2 separate regions of the Homo sapiens genome follow, and region 2 is linked to region 1. Evidence: fine-mapped expression QTL. A gene starts in region 1. The other region holds a variant in brackets. All regions are shown on one strand. Distances are from middle to middle.

What was found.
Region 2: its variant is fine-mapped to the expression of KCNJ11 in putamen (GTEx, PIP above 0.99). The same link has a PIP of 0.9 or more in caudate and nucleus accumbens.

What each region holds. Positions count from the first base shown.
Region 1 is chr11:17,386,378-17,390,759 of GRCh38, reverse strand. It overlaps KCNJ11 (potassium inwardly rectifying channel subfamily J member 11), which reads left to right and starts at 2,101. Exons shown (of 1, transcript NM_000525.4): 1 at 2,101-4,382. The coding sequence starts at 2,669. The coding sequence ends at 3,841. RefSeq lists silencers at 1,021-1,120, 1,201-1,710 and enhancers at 2,919-3,572, 3,573-4,226.
Region 2 is chr11:17,422,032-17,426,413 of GRCh38, reverse strand. The region is part of intron 16 of ABCC8 (ATP binding cassette subfamily C member 8); the gene reads left to right. Among named protein-coding and RNA genes, the nearest start is that of KCNJ11, 36 kb to the right of the region's middle. The variant G/T (reference allele first, on the strand shown) is at 2,216.

The DNA.
Region 1 (4,382 bases):
GGTACCCCACAGATGTGGCTCATCTCTGGTTATTGTTATTAGAACTGACTCTTGCATATGTGAAACCAAAGCCTGCCTCTGTTCCACTTAGTGTCCTGGTTCTACCCTTTGGGCCACAAAAAACTACTAGTTCATCCTCCTTCAAGGCCAGGTGTTTCTGCAATAGTGCCCAAATCCCTGGGGGACTTTCCTTTTCTGATGGCTGGACAGTTGTAGTTGCCTCAGAGATTTCCCCATGTAACCCTGTCTCCTTGAGCTTCCCACTCTGCTCATCTCATTTTACCCTCCCCTTCCTAGACACTGCATCTTTGTTAATATAGCCCATGATCACACCCATCCTTTGTAGCGGTGTTCGCTCTGCCTGCAGGTGGGTAGGGAGAGAAAGGAAAATCCAATATAAAATGCATATCTTGCCCCCACTGTGGCCCACAGCCACACTGCCTTTTCCAGACCCTGTCTCAAGCCCCCACTCCAACAAAATGGCCGCAGATGGTCAGGGGTTCTTCCATAAGGATCTGAGCCACAGACAGCGGTAAAGCCGTTACTGTTCCAACAACAGAGATCTAGCAGGCTTTCCCTCCCAGCTGAGAACCCGGGTCCATGCCACAGGGCAGCCTCAGGCTGATGCCTGAACAGAAACACCACCATGCCGGGACCAAGAGCCTGGGTCCCCCAGTGCCCGAGGCAGCCCTAACACACTGTTCAGGCCTAAATACCACCCATGACCTAACGTGGAAGAAGTCAGGTGACAGGTGTGAGAAAGTGTAAAGCAAGTGGCCTCGGCTCAAACCTTCTTTAAAGTAGGGCCGGAATGGCTGAGAAGATGGAGCCGCCCAGGCTGCCCCACAGCAGTAGCAGGTGTTAAACTGTGCTCCTTTCCTGCCGAGGCCTTTTTTTTTTTTTTTTTTTTTTTTTTTTTTAATGAGAGGGAGTCTGAGCTTCCATCAGATTGTCAAAGGATTCAAGACTAAGATTAAGAGCATCCCCCAAAGAGAAGCAGCTGCAGGTTGAGAAGTCCTCGGACCGCCTAATTTCCGCCAGCCCTGGGATTGGTGGCGCCGCCTCTCAGCGCCTCCTTTCCCGGGGAACCTGCAAACCTGGCGCGGCCGAGAGGCGGATTACTGACCCAAATACGGATGGGGATATTGGGGGAGGGGAGCCAGGGCGACAGGGCGGCGGCCCCAGACTGGGAGGGCGGGTCACAGATCCCTCCCAGCCCCCCACTTTCGTAGAGCGTGGGCAGGAGGAACCTCTGGGTTCCGCGGATCAGAAAAACTCCAAAGGCCGGGTTGTGAGTCCCGGGAGGGGAGGTGGAGGGCGGGGGCGGGGAGGGGCGCGGGAGGGGCGGGGGCTTGCTCCGGCCCCGCCCCCTGCGCTCCGGTGCAGGTCGGGCTCCCCCTGGCGGTCCCCGGCCCCGTTCCTCTCCTCGTGCGCCCCCCTCCCGCCGTCCTAGACCCCTGCCTAGCCCAGGTCGGTCTCCGCGGACCCACGGACGGACAGACAGACGGGAGGACGGCCAGCCGCGAGCGCCCGGGCGGCGGGAGGGGGCGGGGAGGCGACGGCCGTGGCGTGAGGAGCAGGAGCAGGTGCAGCGGCGGCGGCGGGCGGGGCCGGGACCCGGCGCGGAGCGGGAGCCGCGGCGCGGGCGGGCGGCAGGGACCGGGAGGCCGCGACTCGGAGTCAGCCCCGCCGGGTCGCGCGCAGGTCCGGGGAGCCGCGGTTGAGCCGGGTGGGGTGGTGACTCCAGAGAACGCAGGATCCCAAGGAGACAGAGAGGACGAGAGCTGGAGGGGGATCCGGAAAGCGGCGGGGGCGCTCCGGGAGGGGTGGAGTAGGACATAGGGGGCGCACCTGGAGGAGAGACGGGGCGGGGGTGGCCAGGACCTGAGCTGGAGCCTGGGAGCCCGAAGGCCAGACAGGTGAGGCGGGAGACCCGGAGGTGGGGGTGAGGTCCGGTTAGTGGGAGAGATCCGGAGGTGTTAAGTTCTGAGCTGGGCTGGGAAGGCAGGCTGGGCGGGGAGAAGGGCTCTTAGCGGGAGGCCCAGGGGTGGTCAGCTGGTGGGGGAAGCTGGGGGAGGACGCAGGGCCAGGTGGAGAGCCGGCAGGGTTGGGGGCTCCCTAGGCGCCAGGCAGGTGGGCTCAAGGGTGAGGCTGTTTTTTTTGTTTTGTTTTTTGTTTTTGAGACGGAGTCTCGCTCTGTCGCCCAGGCTGGAGTGCAGTGGCGTGATCTTGGCTCACTGCAACCTCCGCCTCTCGGGTTCAAGCGATTCTCCTGCCTCAGCTTCCTGAGTAGCTGGGATTACAGGTGCGCACCACCATGCCCGGCTAACTTTTGTATTTTTAGTAGAGATGGGGTTTCACCATGTTGGTCAGGCTGGTCTCGAACTCCTGACCTAGTGATCTGCCCTCCTCAGCCTCCCAACGTACTGGGATTACAGGCGTGAGCCACCGCGCCCGGCCTGAGGCTGGTATTAAGAAGTGAAGTGGGACCCAGGTGGAGGTAAGGAAGAGTCTGGTGGGGAGTTATCTCAGAAGTGAGGCCAGCACAGGCTGAGTGCAGCCCCAGGGTGAGAAGGTGCCCACCGAGAGGACTCTGCAGTGAGGCCCTAGGCCACGTCCGAGGGGTGCCTCCGATGGGGGAAGCCCCTCCCTGGGGGTCACCGGAGCCATGCTGTCCCGCAAGGGCATCATCCCCGAGGAATACGTGCTGACACGCCTGGCAGAGGACCCTGCCAAGCCCAGGTACCGTGCCCGCCAGCGGAGGGCCCGCTTTGTGTCCAAGAAAGGCAACTGCAACGTGGCCCACAAGAACATCCGGGAGCAGGGCCGCTTCCTGCAGGACGTGTTCACCACGCTGGTGGACCTCAAGTGGCCACACACATTGCTCATCTTCACCATGTCCTTCCTGTGCAGCTGGCTGCTCTTCGCCATGGCCTGGTGGCTCATCGCCTTCGCCCACGGTGACCTGGCCCCCAGCGAGGGCACTGCTGAGCCCTGTGTCACCAGCATCCACTCCTTCTCGTCTGCCTTCCTTTTCTCCATTGAGGTCCAAGTGACTATTGGCTTTGGGGGGCGCATGGTGACTGAGGAGTGCCCACTGGCCATCCTGATCCTCATCGTGCAGAACATCGTGGGGCTCATGATCAACGCCATCATGCTTGGCTGCATCTTCATGAAGACTGCCCAAGCCCACCGCAGGGCTGAGACCCTCATCTTCAGCAAGCATGCGGTGATCGCCCTGCGCCACGGCCGCCTCTGCTTCATGCTACGTGTGGGTGACCTCCGCAAGAGCATGATCATCAGCGCCACCATCCACATGCAGGTGGTACGCAAGACCACCAGCCCCGAGGGCGAGGTGGTGCCCCTCCACCAGGTGGACATCCCCATGGAGAACGGCGTGGGTGGCAACAGCATCTTCCTGGTGGCCCCGCTGATCATCTACCATGTCATTGATGCCAACAGCCCACTCTACGACCTGGCACCCAGCGACCTGCACCACCACCAGGACCTCGAGATCATCGTCATCCTGGAAGGCGTGGTGGAAACCACGGGCATCACCACCCAGGCCCGCACCTCCTACCTGGCCGATGAGATCCTGTGGGGCCAGCGCTTTGTGCCCATTGTAGCTGAGGAGGACGGACGTTACTCTGTGGACTACTCCAAGTTTGGCAACACCGTCAAAGTGCCCACACCACTCTGCACGGCCCGCCAGCTTGATGAGGACCACAGCCTACTGGAAGCTCTGACCCTCGCCTCAGCCCGCGGGCCCCTGCGCAAGCGCAGCGTGCCCATGGCCAAGGCCAAGCCCAAGTTCAGCATCTCTCCAGATTCCCTGTCCTGAGCCATGGTCTCTCGGGCCCCCCACACGCGTGTGTACACACGGACCATGTGGTATGTAGCCCGGCCAGGGCCTGGTGTGAGGCTGGGCCAGCCTCAGCTCAGCCTCCCCCTGCTGCTCATCCAGGGTGTTACAAGGCACTTGTCACTATGCTATTTCTGGCCTCAGCAGGAACCTGTACTGGGTTATTTTTGTCCCTGCTCCTCCCAACCCAATTCAGGACTGGCTCACCCCTCTCCCCCGCCCAAGGCTGCAGAGGCTGTGGGAGGTACTGGGCCCTAGAGCTGTGCGTCCAGCCAGTCCTGGGTCCCCACGATTGACCAGCCACACTCTGGGCCGGTGGCTGGGGAAGAACAATCCCCGAGGGCTGCTGCTTTGCGTCTGTGGCTCCAAGAAGTGCCTGTGGTCAGGCCCCAGCTCTACTTGGTCCCTGAAAAAGCACCTGGCTAAGGGCTGGGCCTGGCCAGCAGGGAGGGCAGTTGATGAGAGAGGGTGTTCCCGCTGGAGGGTTGGTGCTGTGGAGCCTACACCGGCAGGGACAGCC
Region 2 (4,382 bases), 36 kb before region 1:
CAAAACCACAATGAGATACCATCTCACACCCGTTAGAATGGTGATCGTTAAAAAGTCAGGAAACAACAAATGCTGGAGAGGATGTGGAGAAATAGGAACGCTTTTACACTGTTGGTGGGAGTGTAAATTAGTTCAACCATTGTGGAAGACAGTGCGGTGATTCCTCAAGGATCTAGAACCAGAAATACCATTTGACCCAGCAATTCCATTACTGGGTATATACCCAAAGGATTATAAATCATTCTACTATAAAGACACATGCAGACGTATGTTTATTGCAGCACTATTCACAATAGCAAAGACTTGGAAACAACCCAAATGCCCATCAATGATAGACTGGATAAAGAAAATGTGGCACATATACACCATGGAATACTATGCAGACATAAAAAAGGTTGAGTTCGTGTCCTTTGCAGGGACATGGATGAAGCTGGAAACTATCATTCTCAGCAAACTCACACAGGAACAGAAAAGCAAATACCACATGTTCTCACTCATAAGTGGGAGTTGAACAATGAGAACACATGGACACAGGGAGGGGAACATCACACACTGGGGCCTGTCTGGGGGTGGGGGGCAAGGGGAGGGATAGCATTAGGAGAAATACTTAATGTAGATGAAGGGTTGATGGGTGCAGCAAACCACCATGGCATGTGTATACCTATGTAACAAACCTGCACGTTCTGCACGTATATCCCAGAACTTGAAGTATAATAAAAAAAGATGCATGTAAAATAAAACCCTTTAAAAAGGTAAGAAAATAGGAACTGAGAAATGAAGAGGGTAAAAAGATGTTCAGCAACCTGGGCAGAGGACAACTACAGCCATCAACATAAAACCTGGCTCTGTGCCCTCTGGTAGCCAAGGGAAAAAGGGATCTCTGGGCTTTGGAGTATTCATTTAGGAATAAAAGTTGCAGCCAATCAGCAGAAGGGCAAGCTTTCCCTACCAATCATTTCTAGGGGAAAATTATTGAAGGTGTCAGGTTTTTCATAAGCATGAGTACAGAACTGAGCAGGGAGAAAGACTTTGGGCCCAATGTCTGAATATCAACATGCACCCCCGTTTCCTGCATTTCCAAGATGTCCCTGAATGGTGTATCCAAAAGATGGCAAATTTCCCTCCTCAGTGGGGTCGTGGGCTAGCAGATGAGCCCCTTGGGTTTCCCATCACCTCCCATCAGGGACTGTGATGTCTTTGGGGGCAGAGGGGTCTTTGCCTCCATTCGCCATTTTATTTGGGAGATTTTTCAACATAGCCTGACTGGGAAGGCCCAGGTATTCGGTTTGAGATCATATTGCCTTATTCCGACTGCCTCTCCAGCCTTTGGAGGGAGGAGCCCTTTTCTGCTGTCCAACTGCATGCCTGCAGCAAGAAGACAAGAGTCCCCAGTGCACTGTGAGCTGAAGAAAGTAACCAATATTTATTGGGTACCTCCTATGGGCCATGCCCTTTGCTAAGTGCATTGTCAACATGATCTCATCAAGCCTCCTACTAAGTTTAGGAGGGGAGTGTTGTTACCCCATTTCACAGAAGCAGAAACTCAGGCTCAGAGAAGTTGGGTGACTTACTAGTCAGTGTGTGGAGCAGAGACTCTGCCCATGTTCTTTCCCTCAAACCTGGTCACTGCTGGGGCCCCCAGGGCCTAGTCCTAAGGGTTATTGTCCAAGCCCCATGTAGTGGTCAGGCTGGATCTGGGCTCTCCTCCAAGGCAGGGCTTTTCCAGAAGGATTGCAGGGCTCAGACACTGGAGCTGCCCCTGCCTTGACCTGCTCAGCATGGATGTCAAAACCCACTCTGAACCTGGTCCCTTTGCCCTGCTTTCTTCTCCTCCCCCACCCTCATGCCCTCATGTGGCATCGTGCCTGCCTCAGGAGCTCTCCTTGTCCTATGTAGATGAAGCAGGCATGATTGGCAGGGGTCTGCTCTGCCCTGCCTCAGTCCCCACCTCTTCTCCAAGCTGTGCCAACCCTCCGGGTCTGACTGCTGCCCCTCTCTCTTAGGAAACCTCTGCCCCAGCCCAGGGAACACAAGGAGCCTCTCCAAGGCAGAGGACCCTAAGCACTTCTTTTTTTTATTATTTTTTATTTTATTTTAGGTTCTGAGATACATGTGCAGAGTGTGCAGGTTTGTTACATAGCTATACATGTGCCATGGTGCTTTGCTGCACCTATCAACCTGTCATCTTTTTAAGCCCCACATGTATTAGGTATTT[G/T]TCCTAATGCTCTCCCTCCTCTTGCCTCCCACCCCCCGACAGGCTCGGTATGTGATGTTCCCCTCCCTGTGTCCACGTGTTCTCATTGTTCAACTCCCACTTATAGTGAGCACATGTGGTGGTTGGTTTTCTGTTCCTGCCTAAGCACTTATTATAGGCCAGGCACTGTGCAGGCACCTCATCATCTCAGTCAGTCTGCACCGAACTCTGTGCAGTAGATATTATTATATCCTCATTTATCAGATTAGGAAACTGAGGTGAAGCAAGTTGTCCAAGGCCACCCAGCTGTTAAATGGCAGAAGTGGGATTTGCACCTAGGTGCTCAAGTGCATTGGTTTGCCACCATGTGCTCAAAGAGAAGGGGCACAAGAGCCTCATGAAGAAGGCATAGCTAGCCTGACAGTCCAAAGGCCAGCAGCCGCTGTGGCCATGACTCACACACACCTGCCTCCTCCCAGAACTGCCACGTGGGTCCTCACAGCTCTGTCCTTATCAACACTTACTCTCCTTTACAGGTAGCCTAGGCCCCAGCTCCCAGCTCTGTTCGAGGCTCGCAGAGGGGCGGTAGTGAAGGGGTCTCATTTCTCCAGGATCCTCTTTGCTCTCTCGCCCGGTCCTGGTCCAGCTTCCCTTTCAAGCATAGTGAAGTGCATTTGTTAGCTTGCAGCCAACCCTGGGAAATCATGAGAATTTGTTCCCAAGTCAACTCATTCTCCAGCGTCCACAGTGACGTATTCACTCACCCAGTTGAGCGCCTAGTGTATACTAGACCCTGTGACAGCAACAGGAGTGCAAAGGTGACTAAGACGTGGCCCCTGCTTTTTTTTTTTTTTTTTTTTTTTGAGACGGAGTCTCGCCCTGTTGCCCAGGCTGGAGTGCAGTGGTGCGATCTCAGCTCCTCACAAGCTCTGCCTCCTAGGTTCAAGCGATTCTCCTGCTTCAGCCTCCCAAGTAGCTGGGACTACAGGTGTACACCACCATGCCGGCTAATTTTTTGTATTTTTAGTAGAGACGGGGTTTCACTATGTTGGCCAGGGTAATCTCGAACTCCTGACCTCATGATCCGCCCGCCTCAGCCTCCCAAAGTGCTGGGATTACAGGCATGAGCCACCACCCCTGGCCGGCCCCGCTTTTAAGAGAGGGGAGAGAAGACCTGGGCCTTAGAAGAGCTCAGAGGAACCACAATTGACTCTGCAGTCAAGGAGAGGAGGCTCACTGCGGATGTGGTATTTGAGCCTTGAAGGATGAGTGTGGTTTCATCAAGTAGAAAAGGCAGGGATGGGAAAGGGAGGTGGTCCAGGCAGGGGTGATGGTGTGGGCAAAGCCTTGCTGATATTAAAGAACATAGTTCTGTGCACCTGGAACACTGGATGCATGGGGTGCATTATGAAAGATGGGACTGAAGAAGTGAACTTGGCTTAGATCCCATGTAGTAGGTCTGAGAAGTAAGATTTAACCCAAAGGTTGCAAAAGAACCATGCTTGTGATAAAGGATGATGGATTGGGGAAACAGAGAAAAAGACAGACAGACTGTAGGAAGGGAGGTATTAGCAAATAATCATAACACAGTGTGAGGTGTGCATTAATATTCACTCATTCCAAGTATTGATCAAGAAGAGAGGTAGGTACTGGGTTAGGAAACAGCTTGGGCAAATGCATGGGGAAATGAGAGATGTCAAGATGCATTCTAATGGCAGCCTCTTGAAGATCTTAAGTTGTTTTTGGTTCACTCATTTCGCAAATGAATTCATTTAGCAAAAGCACTATGGATACAGTGCTTACCTCTAGGAAGTAAGTTTTAGCCCAAATGCTGCAGAAGGATCATGCTTATGACAAAGGATGATGGACTGGGGAGAGAGAAAAAGAAAAGACAGACAGACTCCAGGAAGGAAGGTCAGTCTGCAGCTCCTTATAGTGGCTAGGAGAAGGAGTCTAGGCAGATACGACTCAATTAGCTTCATCTGCTGTTTGTCTCTCAAAATCTAGACATGTGCACTGCTCTGGCTGGCCCACCTATCCTGGGCATTGAGTTAAGTGTGGGGGCTGTGTGTTGAGAGTCCCCCTCCATTACTGGCAGGAACTCCACACCTCAGACATTGAGCCCCAGGTCTGCAGGGAGAAGACGTGCTTGCAAAGTGAGCTAAAAGCAAAACAGCCTCTGACCTGG